Regions from separate parts of the Homo sapiens genome. Here region 2 is linked to region 1. The links come from fine-mapping of genetic effects on gene expression. A gene starts in region 1. The other region holds a variant in brackets. All regions are shown on one strand. Distances are between the middles of the regions. Region 1 holds the start of IRAK1BP1 (interleukin 1 receptor associated kinase 1 binding protein 1). Region 2 has its middle 78 kb from the start of IRAK1BP1.

The links. PIP is the estimated chance that this variant, and not a neighbour inherited with it, causes the effect.
Region 2: its variant is fine-mapped to the expression of IRAK1BP1 in blood mononuclear cells (TOPMed, PIP above 0.99). The same link has a PIP of 0.9 or more in cerebellum, minor salivary gland, unexposed skin and whole blood.

What each region holds. Positions count from the first base shown.
Region 1 is chr6:78,862,664-78,871,563 of GRCh38, forward strand. IRAK1BP1 (interleukin 1 receptor associated kinase 1 binding protein 1) reads left to right here and starts at 4,888. Exons shown (of 4, transcript NM_001010844.4): 1 at 4,888-5,228. The coding sequence starts at 4,914. LOC107986613 (a long non-coding RNA gene) reads right to left here and starts at 4,827. Exons shown (of 2, transcript XR_001744210.2): 1 at 4,725-4,827. RefSeq lists enhancers at 4,783-4,892, 4,923-5,242, 5,075-5,675.
Region 2 is chr6:78,785,333-78,794,232 of GRCh38, forward strand. No RefSeq gene overlaps it. Among named protein-coding and RNA genes, the nearest start is that of IRAK1BP1, 78 kb to the right of the region's middle. The variant C/G (reference allele first, on the strand shown) is at 5,037.

The sequences.
Region 1 (8,900 bases):
CAGAATCAGGTGGTATGAAATCTAACAGCAAAATATAGGGTAGCCCAGTCTAACAACAAAATGATATAGTGGATTGGCTGATTCAGGTTTATTTTCACTCAGATATCAAGATACACTTGAGAGCACTTTTCCTGGACTAAATTGTAACTTTCAAGGTGAAGATGTAATCATGAGACTAGAACCCTGTGTAAGGGGGCAGCAGAGACAAGTAAACAAAGCTGACTGGCAAAAATCCCCATGGTCCACACAGCATCCTATTCTACCTGTATCATTTAAGGTGCCAGAAGATAAACAACCGCAACCTATTAAGAAAGCAAGAAACAAACCTGGAAATAAAATAAAAGCCTAGACGGAAAGCTATACCCAGTGTCTGGGTTATTTGTGAGATAAAATAGGATAATACCTCACTTCATTTCTGGAAAGTCTAAATCCAATTACTTAAAAAAAAAAACTCACTATAGAGAACATTAACAAATATTTATCTCTTTCTACTTTTCCCAATCACTTTTCCTTAACCCTTTGCTATCTGGTTAACAGTAAAACATTTCTTTGAATGGTCACTAAAAATCTGCTAAATATTACATGCAATAGGCATGTCTTCATCTTCAAGTTTTTGACCTGTACCATGACATTATGGATCACCTCTTTTTGACAATTATACAAACTTTGGTTCCACAACATTGTACTATCTTAATCTTTCCCTTACCCCTTTGAGCCTTTTTTCTGTTCCTTTTGGCTTCTTCATTTACCAATATATTTTCCATAAGTATTTAATTATAAAGTGTAACAAAGTCTAAAGTGATTTTAGTACATCTGACATCTTTTTGAACAAGGCAAGGACCTTAATACACACTTCTAGGTTAGGTTTTTTTCCCCCTCAGGATTTAGAATGTATTATTCCATTCTCTTCTGACACTTGGGATTTTAATTTTTGAGATGTTTGGAATTGCCCATCATAAGCTGGGTACTGTCAGAGACTTCAACTCAAAGTCAGATACCCCACCAGAAACAGATAAAAAGATAATGGCACATCTGAGACACAAGCACCAGAGGGTATAAGCAAGCTGCATGAGCAAGCAGCTCAGACGCCCATGCCACCCACCAAGGTTGCACCAAAACACCTCCCTCACCTCACACCAATGGCTATGTAGGGATTACTCTATGGCCAACTGAAGGAGGAGGAAAAAAACCTGAGCTTTTATGGCAAGATTATGGATAGGCTGGCTTGGTATGCAGGTGCCAGTAAAAAATGAGAAGCAGCTGTGGAACAACGTCACTTGTAAAATCTCTGAATAACAGTGGAGAAGGAAAATTTCCCCAAAAGGTGAAGCTTTGAGCAGTGCACCTACAGATCCACTTTGTGTGAAGTTCTATAAATTCCTTCAGGCTGACAGGTATAAAAGTCAGCTTTAAATTCTCCTTCTCATTTATTCTTATCAGTCTTGGTTTTAAGATAACATAAAACTTGGTCAAGCTACTTATGCAAAAAAAAGGGGGAGGGGAATTTTTATAAGGATACAGGAATATTTTAGAGAACTCCAGGGCAGGAATGAAACCAGGCCTAAGAAAAAATTCTTAAAAAAGAGACTGGAATTGCATCTGGACTATTTTTCCATCTCACCTCTGATCCTCTTGGAAAGTATCATTTTCTCTTTCTCTCTCTTTCTCCCCACCCCATCTCTACACTTTTTCTATTTCTCTAATAGAAAAATGGCCAATCTATATCTCCCAAGGTTTTACATAAATATATATATGAGTGTATGTCACAGCCCTGTCACCTAAGAGACTAAATTTTTAAAATTTGGTGTAAATATAGATTCTCATGTGAAAAATTCCAACGGGTTCAACTGGAATTAGGTACCTATTCTTAGTACAATCAACTTGGTAGAGTCACCTTATTCAAAACAGTTGCTAGGGGCTCAGCCTTGACTCTGAGAGAGAACTGGGCTACTATGAGCTGAACAAATAGCTCTATGCTCTTCATTCATTCTCCCAATCATTCCAGCTGAAAACTTCATAAGTCAGTTTAGGCTTATCCTTCTCTTTCATATACTATTAATTTATAGTTCTGTCACAAAGAATTAATTCATTCTTCTTTCAAAATCCAGTATTATCTATTCCTTCTCCATTCTCACGGGCTTTGTTATTTGCCAAAATGATAGTTCAAAAACAGACATTACACTGTAGTTAAATTTGCATTTCTTAAACTACTGGTGAGGATAAACTATTTTTTTTTTCATCCTATAGACTACTAACATTTCTGCTTTCTTGGTCTGTATTGTGGACTTGTGTTCCCCAAAATTCGTATGTTGGAGTGCTCTTCAATGTGACTGTGTTTGGAACAGGGCTTTTAAGAAGGTAATTAAGGTTAAATGGAAGTCACAAAGGTGAGGCTCTATGAAGAGACATCGGGGTAATGTGCACAGAGGCAAGGCTATGTGAGGATGCTGCAAGAAAGTAGCCGTCTGCAAGCCAACCAGAAAGGCCTTGGGGGAAACCAAAACTGCTGACACCTTAATCTTGGACTTCTAGGCCCCAGAACTGTGAGAAAATAAATTTGTGCTGTTTAAGCTCCAAAGTCTTTGAAGCCGAAAGACTTTTGTTATGGCAATAGCAATCTAATACAGTTTGCCTCAGTGTTCATTATTTTTCTTTTGACACGTTTGTTTCTTCTAGCAACAGTTCTCTAAGCATTAAGACTCTTAGCCCTTTATACATAATAAACATTAACAAACATTTTTCCCCATTTATTTGCCCCCCCACCTTTGTTTTTATTTTGCTTTATATAACTGATTTTTTTTAGTATAGTCCAATTTTTCAAACTTTTCCTTCATGGTTGCTGCACATGAAATTATGATTAAGGCCAGCCTTCCCATCCCCCAGAATATTTATATTTACATATAGGTTCTTCCAATTATTTTTCTTTTTGGTCTCATCTGAATTATTTTCAATGTATGATATAAGATACAAATTCTTTAAAAATATAGCTTACAATGGGCCAGGCACCGTGGCTCATGCCTGTAATCCCAGCACTTCGGGAGGCCGAGGTGGACGGATCACGAGGTCAGGAGATCGAGACCATCCTGGCTAACACGGTGAAACCCCATCTCTACTAAAAATACAAAAAAATTAGCCGGGCGTGGTGGCGGGCACATGTAGTCCCAGCTACTCGGGAGCTGAGGCAGGAGAATGGCGTGAACCCGGGAGGCGGAGCTTGCAGTGAGCCCAGATCGCACCACTGCACTCCAGCCAGAATGACAGAGCGAGACTCCGCCTCAAAAAAAAAAAAATATATATATATATAAAATATACTATAGCTATATAGCTATAGTATATTATATATATAGCTTACAATTATCCCTGTACCATGTAATCATTTTCCACTGATATGAAATCTTTTATCGTATACTAAATACTTACACTTTAACTCCTGTTGCTTTTTGTTTATGACATTCACTCATTCAATAATTTATTTTGGAGGCTATATTCTTCCGCATTTATCGTAAGGGAAAAAGAATTTTTCACCAAGTTTAAGAAACATTATTTTGGGTGTCTTAAATAATAAAAGACTATGACGGAAAGTTCTTAACGTTAGTTTTTAAATTAAAATTGTTTTCAGCTAACAATAAACAAGATGGATATACACAAAATTATGTTAATCTAGTGATGAGCCTAATTAAAGGAGGGGGGTACCATTGATTTAGTTGAATTATACTAATCGAAAAGAACAGAAAAAACGATGGTGAAGAAACTACAAGAGGACTGTCAGCTTTTCAGGGTCCTTTTAAAAGAACAGTTCTTGTCCTTCTAGAACTAGTTATTCAAAATTCTTTTTTCCCCCCTCGATTCTCTTGATAAAATTCAGATAGTAAAGACGTATAAGTCAGTGGGGCTATTTTTACAAAGATCATTGCTTAGTGCTAGGAAGAGAATCCAGAAGACGGGAAGTTGAGGGTTGTGTTCTAAAAGTTCTCTGAAGAAAAGGGTACAGAGAAGCTCCAAGTTGTGCAGGCCCAGCAAACTCCATGTTGGACGTGCTTTGCTACCACCTAAATCTCTTCTGTCGGAATTCAAGGCCCGAACCATTCCAGGGATTTTAGAAAAAAATGGGGAGACACAAAAATGATGCCAAAGCCATAGCTATCATTACAAACATCCATTATGTTCACTCTGCTTTCCATATGCAACGCACTCTACATACAATGGGCGCCTTATAAGCACATAGCAAATGTGAAAAATATTATCAACATTGCTTTGATAATATTAATATATTATATATATTAGAATATATTATATATTAGAATATATTATATATATTAGAATATATTATATATTACTAATATAAAAAATATTATCAACCCTGCTTTAGAGAAGATGATACTGAGATATGAAGAATCATAAACTGTCCAAGATCACAGGGGCAAAAAGTTCACCTCAACTGAAACCTCTCACGAACCACAAAAATGTGGCCGAGGGAGCCTCAAAAAGCAGTACCCCAAGCGGGGACGGTAAAGTCAGAAAAGACAAGGCTGGGGGTAATCACAGAGAAATCTAAAAACCCGCTCGGCCTCGCTACTCTTCTCCTTCCTCTGAGGTGCAGAGGCGCGGTGGGACGACAAGGAGTTGCGAGAAAGGGCAGAGCTCACTGAGGAGGCAACAGAGAAAGTCCGCTAACAATTTTTGAAGGCCGTAAGTTAAACATGTTAAAAACTGTAGCTACTCACTCAGCCGACATCTAGTAAAAAAGATGCGGCAAGATCAACAAGGCATATAGCTTGCGCCCGCCAGAAGTTCCGCGGCCTCCACACCCATCCCGGCATACTTTGCGCCGTGCACAGGCAAGCCCTGGTGCGCATTGGCCCCTTCGGCCGCCGTCGGCCGGTAGTTACTATGGAAACCCAGCTGCCATCGCTATGTCTCTGCAAAAGACCCCTCCGACCCGAGTGTTCGTGGAACTGGTTCCCTGGGCTGACCGGAGCCGGGAGAACAACCTGGCCTCAGGGAGAGAGACGCTACCGGGCTTACGCCACCCCCTCTCCTCAACACAAGCCCAAACTGCTACCCGCGAGGTGCAAGTAAGCGGCACCTCAGAAGTGTCTGCGGGCCCTGACCGGGCGCAGGTGGTGGTGCGAGTGAGCAGCACCAAGGAGGCGGCAGCCGAGGCCAAAAAGAGCGTTTGTCGCCGTCTAGATTACATCACGCAGAGCCTCCAGCAGCAGGGCGTGCAGGTGAGATCTCCGCGGGGGAGGAAATAAGAGCCGGAAGACACAAAAGGGTTGGCAGATGGTCGGGCCCCACAGGCCCCCCTAGCGGGAAGGGAGATGTGGAGGGTCTGGAGCGTTTAGGACGCGTTTGTTGCAAAGGTACTCCGGGACGCCAGGACCTGGCAGAGTGAATATTTGACCCATTCTTCTCCTAGACGAAGGTAATTATTGGCCTCAGGCAAATTAAAAATAAAAGAATGCAAATTGGGTAGGTTTTTATCTGGGGATATTTGCTTCAGTGATTTTGTTTTTAAATTTAAAGTGATGAAATGTTAAAACTTGAAATGTTAGTTGTAAATACTTGCCCACGTGGAGTGCTGGACACTAAATATTTTGTTTTGTTTTGTTTTTATTCCGCACCATGGAATTGGCAAGTGAAGAGCACGACCTGCTTCCTTCCGATCATGTAAAACTTTGCATGGAATGGTTCTTGAGTATGTTCCGCAAACAGTAACGTTGGGAAGTGGGGAAGAAGTTGCGTCCATTTTCATTTTATAATGATTTTCATTTTATAGTGATTCCCCCAAAATTTCTTCGGCCTTCTTAGGTTTAACTTAAAAGAAAAAATCAAGCCAGTATTGTGGATACCACATATACGAAATACTTCTACTTACTTAACGGAGATGTCCATGAGACAAATCACTAAACAAATCTTACCTTAAGCCTACTCCTAAGGCAAGAAAAAAAATGAAGCCATCATTTAATCCACACAATAGCACTGTTAGGCATGTTTTAATATCCCTGTTTTCCAAATTTAAAGAGGTTAAACAATGCTCTGAACTTTAGGTAGAGCAATATTTGAACTCATGTATTCCTGAAACCAGAATGTAAGTTGCTTCCAATTCTGCCGATAATTAGAATGAAAGAAAATTAGAAATCATAGGGATCAACGATTTCAGTTTTCTCATTTTATAGAGTAGGACCCCAAAGGCCAGAGATGTAACTTATCCAGGATGACATTGAGTTGGTAAAAGTGCAGGCATTGTTACTTCCAGTCTATTGCAAGAAATTCCATACCCCGAAAAAGCAAGTCCTTATTTTTAACAAGAAAAGATATTTGAATTGCATTTATAATACAAACATACAAGTTATTACAAAGTCATTTGGACAAGATTTCTTCAAATGATTTTACAATTTAGAAAAATACAGATAATTATAAATAATGTGAGTAAAGTGGGTTTAATATGTAGAAAAATAGTTTTAAAAAACTGCTACTAGTGCTGTAGTCGTTTGAATAATGTTAACAAGTTTTTAAGTTATTTACATAAAATAAAAAGAGCTCACAGGTCTCTAATATATAAAACAACATAAGCTGGGCATGGTGGCTCATGCCTGTAATGCCAACACTTTGGGAGGCCAAGGCAGGTGGATCACTTGAGGCCAGGAGTTCGAGACCAGCCTGGCCAACATGGCAAAACCCAATCTCTAGTAAAAATACAAAAATTAGGTGGGCATGGTGGCACAGTCCTGTAATCCCAGCTACTAGGGTGACTGAGGCAGGAAAATCTCTTGAATCCGGGAGGCGAAGGTTTCAGTGAGCCGAGATGGTGCCACTGCACTCCAGCTTGGGTGACAGAGACTCTGTCTCAAATAAGTAGTAAGTAAATAAATTAACTAAGTCCAACTTAGAGTAATCAAGATTCAGTGTTCAAGGCAAGACATAAGAAAGACAGTAACCTCCCAATTATCTCTGCTAATGGATGAAAGCAGTCAGGTAGATAATTTGTTCAGGAGATAATACAAAATATCATTTATATTTTCAGAATGAATTATGGGTCTTCACAAAGTCTGTATTCATTTTAAACTTTAGAATTCTGAGCTGTAAGATTTATAAACATCACTTCCCTGCTTAAAGGGCTCCTCATAATCCAAACTCCTTTGCTTAAAAGATGGAGCCTGAGCCGGGCGTGGTGGCTCACGCCTGTAATCCCATCACTTTGGGAGGCCGAGGAGGGCAGATCACCTGAGGTGAGGAGTTCAAGACCAGCCTGACCAACATGGTGAAATCTCGTCTCTACTAAAAATACCAAAATTAGCCAAGCATGGTGGTGCATGCCTGTAATCCCAGTTACTTGTGAGGCTGAGGCAGGAGAATTGCTTGAACCCAGGAGGCGGAGGTTGCAGTCAGCTGAGTTCGTGCCATTGCACTCCAGCCTGGGCAACAAGAGTGAAACTCCGTCCCAAAAAAAAAAAAAAAAAAAAAAAAAAAAAAAGATGGAGCCTGACTATCCTCATCTCCTATCATATCTTCCTCCCCTCTATTGTATTTTTCTTTAAGAATTAGCCCAAGTCTGAGCTATGGAAGTGAGACACTGTCTCAAAAAAAAAAAGAAAAGAAAAGAATCAGCCCAAATTCACCTTCTTGGCATTCCTTTCCTAATATAACACTAATCCCTGCCATGCAACACTTCACTCCCTATACTTGTAATAAAAACTTATCCTGTATCATAATTCTTAATTTACTTGTTTCTCCTCCATATTCTAAACTTCTCCAGAGCCAAGACCATTTGTTCTTTTTTTGCCTGTATGAGTTATGGTCCATACACTTCACATAATGTGTACTCAGAAAATGCCTTCTGAATGAATAATAGAAAAAAAATGAAACAATAAGTGAACAAATTATTCAGCTATGGTATAGATCATAGATTTATGAACTTGTGTGAAGGTATAATCCTTACTTCTAGCGTGGTTTTCATTGAAAAGTGTTTTAAAGTTCTAAGCAATATTTACTCATTCAACCAACAAACATTAAGCCTTTCTTTTCATTGTTCATTTTTGTTTTTGGTTTTTGTTTTTTTTTGAGATGGAGTTTCGCTTTTGTCGCCCAGGCTGGAGTACAATGGAGGCAGTCTAGGCTCACTGCAACCTCCGCCTCCCAGGTTCAAGCAATTCTCCTGCCTCAGCCTCCCAAGTAGCTGGGATTACAGGCGCCTGCCACCACGCCTGGTAATTTTTGTATGTTTAGTAGAGATGGGGTTTCACTGTGTTGGCCAGGCTGGTCTCGAACTCCTGACTGATCCCCCACCTCAACCTCCCAAAATGCTGGGATTACAGGCGTGAGCCACTGCGCCTGGCCCATTGTTCATTTTTAAACAATACTTTATATTGTCTTAGTTTGTTTGGTCTGCTGTAATGAAAAACCATAGCCTGGGTAGCTTATAAACAACAGAAATGTGTATCTTACAGTTCTGGAATCTGGGCATCCAAGATCAAGGAGCCAGTAGATTTGGTATATAGTGAATGCTACCAAGAATTACCCTGATATCTCTGCTTCCCCTTTATTTTCTTCTCTCTCCAACTGTAGGCATAAAATGACCTCACAATGTCTGGTCCTCCCTCACAAAAGTGTTTCGGTCACTCAGGATGCATATCTAAGTTCTAGTGCAAGAGAGGACTAGGAGTAAATGCTGAAGGGAGTGTTTAACCCCTTTAACCCATTGCAGTATGAGCAAGACTACTGTAAGATTCCTTTAACACAGTGCAACCAAAAGACAGACACCTTTTCTCCTTTTTGCTTCACAACAGACCACCTCAGCCACCATGACACCCAGTAGGAGGTATTCCACAGGAACAGCAGACGAGAACTTACCTTACATCATGACACATCAAGGCATATAGTTCTTGCAATGGACTAAA
Region 2 (8,900 bases), 77 kb before region 1:
GGGTTGCCATCCTACTCTCTGATAAAACAGACTTTAAACCAACAAAGATCCAAAGAGACAAAGAAGGCCATTACATAATGGTAAAGGGATCAATTCAACAAGAACTAACTATCCTAAATATATATGCACCCAATACACGAGCACCCAGATTCATAAAGCAAGTCCTGAGTGACCCACAAAGTGACTTAGACTCTCACACAATAATAATGGGAGACTTTAACACCCCACTGTCAACATTAGACAGATCATGAGACAGAAAGTTAACAAGAATATCCAGGAATTGAACTCAGCTCTGCACCAAGCAGACCTAATAGACATCCACAGAACTCTCCACCCCAAATCAACAGAATATACATTCTTTTCAGCACCACACCACACCTATTCCAAAATTGACCACATGGTTGGAAGTAAAGCACTCCTCAGCAAATGTAAAAGAACAGAAATTATAACAAACTGTGTCTCAGACCACAGTGCAATCAAACTAGAACTCAGGATTAAGAAACTCACTCAAAACCACTCAACTACATGGAAACTGAACAACCTGCTCCTGAATGACTACTGGGTACATAACGAAATGAAGGCAGAAATAAAGATGTTCTTTGAAACCAACGAGAACAAAGACACAACATACCAGAATCTCTGGGACACATTCAAAGCAGTGTGTAGAGGGAAATTTATAGCACTAAATGCCCACAAGAGAAAGCAGAAAAGATCCAGAATTGACACCCTAACATCACAATTAAAAGAACTAGAAAAGCAAGAGCAAACACATTCAAAAGCTAGCAGAAGGCAAGAAATAACTAAGATCAGAGCAGAACTGAAGGAAATAGAGACACAAAAAACTCTTCAAAAAATCAATGAATCCAGGAGCTGGTATTTTGAAAAGATCAACAAAATTGATAGACCGCTAGCAAGACTACTAAAGAAGAAAAGAGAGAAGAATCAAATAGATGCAATAAAAAATGACAAAGGGGATATCACCACTGATCTCACAGAAATACAAACTACCATCAGAGAATACTGTAAACACCTCTACACAAATAAACTAGAAAATCTAGAACAACTGGATAAATTCCTCGACACATACACTCTCCAAAGACTAAACCAGGAAGAAGTTGAATCTCTGAATAGACCAATAACAGGCTCTGAAATTGAGGCAACAATTAATAGCTTACCAATCAAAAAAAGTCCAAGAACAGATAGATTGTATTTCTACATACTAGCAACAAATAATTAGAAAATGATATTTTATTATATACATATATATATATATTTTTTTTACTTTAAGTTCTGGGATACACATGCTGAGCATGCACGTTTGTTACATAGGTATACATGTTCCATGGTGATTTGCTGCACCTATTAACCCATCATCTAGGTTTCAAGCCCTGCGTGCATTAGGTGTTTGTCCTAATGCTCTCCCTCCCCTTTCCCCCCAGCCCCCTGACAGGCCCTGGTGTGTGATATTCCCCTCCCTGTGTCCATGTGTTCTCATTGTTCAACTCCCATTGATGAGTGAGAGCATGTGGTCTTTGGTTTTCTGTTCCTGTGTTAATTTGCAGAGGATGATGGTTTCCAGCTTCATCCATGTCCCTGCAAAGGACACGAACTCATTCTTTTTTATGGCTGCATAGTACTCCATTATGTATATATGACACATTTTCTTTATCCAGTCTAACATTGATAGGTATTTGGGTTGGTTCCAAGTCTTTGCTATTGTAAACAATGCTGCAATAAACATACATGTGCATGTGTCTTTATAGTAGAATGGTTTATAATCCTTTGGGTATATACCCAGTAATGGGGTTTCTGGATCAAATGGTATTTTTGCTCCTGAGTCCTTGAGGAATTGCCACACTGTCTTCCACAATGGTTGAACCAATTTACACTCCCACCAACATTGTAAAAGCGTTCCTAAGAAAATGATATTTTAAAATGCTATTTACAGTAGCCTAAAAACAATAATAAATGTAATGAAAACACTGAAAACTAAAAACCATTTCTCAAGAACATTTAAAGAAGATCTAAATAAATGAAGACAATTTAAATATATATGCTCTGGTCATGTATTTGAAGATTCAACATTATTAAACTATCAATAATTCCCCCAAATTAATCTGTATATCCAATTCAATCCTAACCAAAATCCCAAAAAAATCCATTTTAACTGTTGAACTCAGTTTACAATTTATATACAAATTCAAAGAATTTAGAATAGACAAAACAATTTTGAAAAACAACAAAGTTGTAGGATTTACACTCCCTGATTTCAAGATTTACTATAAAGCTATAGCGGTTTTTACAATGTGATCTTTGGCCAAGAATAGAGAAGTAAATCAATGGAACAAGATGAGGTCCAGCCATAAGCCCACCTATACATGGTCAATTGGTTTTCAACAAAAATACTAAGGCAATTTAAGAAAGAAAGATAATGTTAATAAATGGTCTGGAACAACTGAATCTCCATAAGAAAAAAAGAAGAATCTTGACCACTACCTCTTACCATGCTAAAAAAAAAAAGGGGGAGGCGGGTGAATATCTTCATGAGTGTGGAGTAAAGATTTGTTTACACTAGGCCAAAATATGTGTGTGTGTGTATATATATATATAAACTTTAATAAATTTTACTTCATCAAAATTAAAAACTATAACTATTCAAAAACACCATTATGAAAATGAAAAGGTGATCCACAGATTGGGAGGTAAATCTTTCCAAAACATGTATCTGACTAGTATTAAAGATATACAAAGAGTTCTGTATCAATCAGGGCTTGATTAATGAAACAGAACCACTAAGAGTCCCATACATATGTGTATGTATATATATATATATATATATATATATATATATATATATATATATATATGTATATAAACATATTTCATTATATGGATTTGATCTCATACATTTATGGGAGACTGTCTCTGTGAAACTGTTGTCTGTACATCTGATACTAGAGTCTGAGATCTGCTAATAAAGCAGTCAGGAAGAGAAATTAAATGCAATGTGAGAGAAGCAAGAAGAAACTCACCTATAAGGATGGGCTGAAATCTCCAAGGACAGACTGTACCAATCTCTCACCAACTTCAATCAAGCTTCCAACTTCAATGATTAGGGAGATGTATTAGTTTGCTAGAGTTGCCAGAGCAACACGATAAAAACTGGATAGCTTAAAATAGAAATTTATTGTCTTGGTTCTAGAGGCTAGAAATCTCAGATGAAGACATTAGCAGGGTTGGTTCCTCCTGAGAGCTGTGAGGGAGAACCTCTTCCATTCTTCTTGTTTAGCTTCTGGTGGTTTGCTGGCAATCTTTGGCATTCCTTGGTATCTGCTACATCACCCTAATCTCTTCCTTCATCTTCACATGGCATTCTCTGTGAATGTGTGTGTCTCTGTGTTCACATTGTCCCTTCTCAAAAGGACACCACTGTATTTGGATTAGGGCCCACTCTAATGACTCATTTTAACTTGATTACCTTTGTCTCTACAAAGACTCTATCTCTAAATAAGGTTACATTCCGGGGTACTGAAGGCTAGTATCCCAACATATATTTTTGGGGAGACACAAATTCAACTGACTACAGGAGATAAGTATGTACCTGGCCCAGGATTCAGCACAATGTAAAGAGGAAGTCTGGCTGGAGGAGCTATGAACTCAGATGCCACCTCATGCTCACAGGGTGACCAGCAAATTAGCAACAGTGTGTGTGAGCTGCAACAGTGCCACCTGCCTTGCTCCAGCTTTCCATGAATAAAAAGAAGATAGTTGCTGCTTTATGTCTGCATTCTAAATCCTGCACAAATTTTCAGGCTCAAAACAACCAGAGAGGGACATCCCAGAAAAAAGTAGTTCCAGTTTAGTTAAGGTGACACAATAGCAACTTCACCACAAACTCATACAACACAATGCAGACAAAATGCAATTTTCAAATGAATAAAAGGTTTAGATATACCTTTCACAATATGAGATACATAAATGGACAAGAAACACATTTAAAGGTGTTTATTCCCATTAGTCTTCAGGAAAGTGCAAATTAAAATCATAATGACATACTACTGAATATCCCCCAAATGGCTAACGTTAAAACAAAAACCGGGGCATATCAAATGTTGATTGCAATGAGTTTTTAAGTTATCTTGAAGCACATGAAAATACTTTACCCAGCCAATAGTATATTCTATCATTATGGTAATTCATAATGATGATGTACCTTTATATTTGATTCCTTTACCAACTAAAGTGGGCATAGCCACTTTCAAGGCATAACAATGGCTCCCCAAAATGTTCACATTCTAATCTCAGAACCTATGAATATGTTAGGTTACATGGTAAAGGGAAACTAAGGTTGCAGAGGAAATTGAAGTTGTTAATCAGCTGACCTTAAAATAGAGAGATTATCTTGGATTATCCAATGGGTCCAGTGTAATCACAAGGATCATTCAAAAAAGGGGGAAGCAGAAGAGGGAGTGTCAGAGAAAAACATATAACAACAAAAGTATCATCAAAGCTACATTGCTAGCTTTGAAGATGGAGGAATGAGACCCCAAATCAGTGAATGTGAGCAGGCTCTAGAAGCTGGAAAAGACAAGGAAACAGATTTTCTCCTAGTACAACCAGAAAGTAACACAGCCTGGTGGGCACCTTGATTTTAGCCCCAAGCAACTTGTGTTGGATTTCTGACCTACAAAACCATAAGATAATAAATTCGTGTTTTAAAGTGTGTAGTAATTTGTTACATCAGCCATTGGAAGTTAACACAAGTAGATACTATTAAGATTGTTTTACAGATAAAATAAAGCAGGGAAGTCCAGCATCTGGGCTATCACCAGTTGCTCACAGGGCCCAGACAGTCTACACCTTATGTTTCTGGGCTCTCACTCCATGATTCCTTCCACAGTGCCACCCAGCTTTCTCTGGGTGTGAGCAGGATCATGTCAGCAAATGACTCAAAGAAATTATGAGCAGTGAGACTCAGACATGGAACAGGTCTTAGCTTTCTGATAAGAAAGTCACGTACATCTCCACTCTCAAAA[C/G]TTCATGGATTTGAGCAGGGCACAGTGGCTCACACCTGTAATCCCAGCACTTTGGAAGGCCAAGTTAGGAGGATCACTTGAGGCCAGGAGTTGGAGACCAGCCTGGGAAACATAATTAGACCTAATCTCTGAGAAAAAAAAAATTAATTAGCTGGGGAAAGCTGGAATCATTCCCCTTGAAAACAAGCACAAGACAAGGATGACTCCTCTCACCACTCCTATTCAATATAGAATTGGAAGTCCTAGCCAGCACAACCAGGCAAGAGAGAGAGAGAAAAAGGGCATCTGAATAGGAAGAGAGAAAGTCAAACTATTCCTATTTGCAGATAACATAATCCTATTAACTAGAAAATCCCATAGTTTCAGCCCAAAAGCTTCTTGCTGATAAACAATTTCAGCAAAGTCTCAGGATATCAAAATCAGTGTACAAAAATCACTAGCATTTCTACACACAAACAACAGTCAAGCCAAGAGCCAAATCAGGAATGAACTCCCATTCACAATTGCCACAAAAAGAAGAAAATACCTAGGAATACAACTAGCTATGGAGGTGAAAGATCTCTATGAGGAGAACTATAAACCACTACTCAAAAAAATCAAACATGGCATAAACAATTGGAAAAATATTCCATGCTCATGGATAGGAAGAATCAATATTGTTAAAATAGCCATACCGCCCCAAGCAATTTATAAATTGAATGCTATTCCTATTAAACTACCAACGACATTCTTCACAGAACCAGAGAAAACGATCTTAAAATTCATATGAAACCAAAAAAGAGCCCAAATAGCCAAGGCATTCCTCAACAAAAAGGACAAAGCTGGAGGCATCACACTATCTGACTTCAAACTACTGTACCGGGCTACAGTCACAAAAGCAGCACGATACTGGTACAAAAACAGACACATAGACAAATGGAACAGAATAGAGAACCCAGAAATAAGACCATACACCAACTATTATCTGATCTTTGACAAATCTTACAAAAACAAGCAATGGGGAAAGGATTCCCTACTCAATAAATGGTGTTGGGAAAACTGGCTAGCCATAGGCAGAGGTTGAAACTGGTCCCCTTCCTAACACCTATATGAAAATTAACTCAAGATGAATTAAAGACTTAAATGTAAAACCCAAAAGTATAAAAACTCTGGAAGATAACCTAGGCAATAACATTCAGGATATAGGCACAGAGAAAGATTTCATGTCAAAGATGCCAAAACAATTGCAACAAAAACAAAAATTGACACATGGGATTTAATGAAACTAAAGAGCTTCTGAACATCAAAAGAAACTATCCACAGAGTAAACAGACAGCCTACAAAATGGGAGAAAATTTTTGCAAACCATGCATCCAAGAAAAGTCTAATATACAGCATCTATGAGGAACTTAAACAAATGTATAAGAAAGAAACAACACCATAAAAAGTAAGCAAAGGACATAAACAGACACTTTTCATAAAAAGACATACTTGTGGCCAACAACCATATGAAAAAAAGCTCAATATTACTGATCATTAAAGAAATGCAAATCAAAACCACAATGAGATACTATCTCACATCAGCCATAGTGACTATTAATTAAAAGTCAAAAAGTAACAGAAGCTGGCAAGGTTTGGGAGAAAAAGGAACACTTATATACTGTTAGTGGGAGTGTAAATTAGTTCAGCCATTGTGGAAGACAGTGTGGCAATTCCACAAAGACCTAAAGACAGAAATACGATTTGACCCAGCAATCCCATTAATGGGTATATACCCAAAGGAATATAAATATTATATTTATTTATATATATTATAAAGACACATGCACATATATGCTCATTGCAACACTATTCACAATAGCAAAGATGTGCAATCAACCTAAATGTCCATCAGTGAGAGACTGGATAAAGAAAATATGGTATATATACACCATGGAATACCATGCTGCCATAAAAAATAACAAGATCATGCTCTTTGCAGGAACATGGATGGAGCTGGAGGCCATTATCCTTAGCAAACTAACACAAGAATGGAAAAACAAATATCACATTGTCTCACTTATAAGTGGGAGCTAAATAAGGAGAACACATGGGCACATGGAGGAGATACTGGGGCCTACTTGAGTGTGGACAGTGGGAGGAGGGAGAGGATTTGGAAAAATAACTAAAGGGTAGTAGGCTTAATACCTGGATGACGAAAAAATCTGTACAACAATCCCCCATGACACAAGTTTACCTAAGTAACAGACTTTCACTTGTACCCTTGAACTTAAAAGTTAAAAAAATATCAGCCAGGTGTGGTGACGCACACCTGTAGTCTTAGTTACTCAAGAGGCTGAGGTGGGAGGATCCAGCAGTTCAAGGTTATAGTGGGCCACGATCACACCACTCCATTCCAGGCTTGATGACAGAACAAGATCCAGTCTCTAAGAAAAAAATTAAAATCTCTGTGAACTTGAACTGAAAATATATAACACGAGAGGTTTTTTTTCTTTTTATTTTCTTTTTTTTTTTTTTTTTTTTTTGAGACAGAGTCTTGCTCTGTCACCCGGGCTGGAGTGCAGTGGCACGATCTTGGCTCACTGCAGCCTCTACCTCCCAGGTTCAAGCAGTTCTCCTGCCTCAACGTACTGAGTAGCTGGGATTACAGGCACACGCCACCATACCTGGCTAATTGTTTTTACTTTTTAGTAGAGACAGGGTTTCACCATGTTGGCCAGGCTTGTCTCCAACTCCTGACCTTAGGTGATCCACCCACCTCAGCCTCCCAAAGTGCTGGGATTACAGGCATGAGCCACCATGCCCAGCAATGTGAGAGTACACTTATCTTGCTTTGCCCAAAGATGTGTCAGCAACATAACCTTCAGACTAAAACCAAAAATTTCAATTTAGAGTATTTATCCCAGGACCTAAAAGACACTAAGGCCTACCACACACATCAATCATTTTAAACAATTTTATAGGAGGACTATGTGAATTTATGTTATTGAGCCTCTTGTGGCTTGGTACCAGGAGTCTCCTTTTGTAAGAAATCAAATAAATGACCCTGACCTTCTTCAAGAATTGAAAAGTGGTTCAGAGAAGTACTTTGTTTTATCCGGGTAGCAGGTTAAGTATCAAAGTATCATCCCTTAGAGAAACTGATTTAACACATTAAATTATGAAGCAATCTAGAGTGTCCCCAGGGCTGCTGCTTATTATTGACAACATAAGTAGGTGGTCTAGAAGTAAATGAATATATGGGAAGAGCACAGCAGCTACACGTTTCCCAACTCCATGGGGGCATCATTCACATAAAAGACATGTGAGCAGTGACCTCTAGAATTGTACATTACCCTCAGTCCCTGAGGGTTTGAGATTTTTTGAGACTGTATACTCTTCAGCCTGTCACACTCATAAACTGCCTCCTTGTTCATGGATGGAAAAGGTTGTCCCTTAAACACTGTGATTTGAGGAAGAAAGAAGGATCCATCTTCTTGATAATCCCCCTCCCCACAAGTTAAAAGGCTGAAACTTCACCTCAAATTTGTTCCCTCAGACTGTAGTTTTTCTAACTTCAAGTATCTTTTTATGACTTTTATTGTTTACACTTAAATATTATCCACTTATTGTAGAATAGTGCTGCAATGAACATACATGTGCATGTTCTTTATCACAGAACAGTTTATATTCCTTTGGGTATGTACCCAGTAATGAATTGCTGAGTCAAATAATTGTTCTGTTTTTAACTCTTTGAGGAATTGCTGCACTGCTTTCCACCTGGTTGAATTAATTTGCAATCTCACCAACAATGTATCAGCATTCCCTTTCTCTTCAACCTAGCCAGCATCTGTTATTTTTTTGACTTTTTACTAATAGCCAGTCTTAACTGGTGTAAGATGGTAT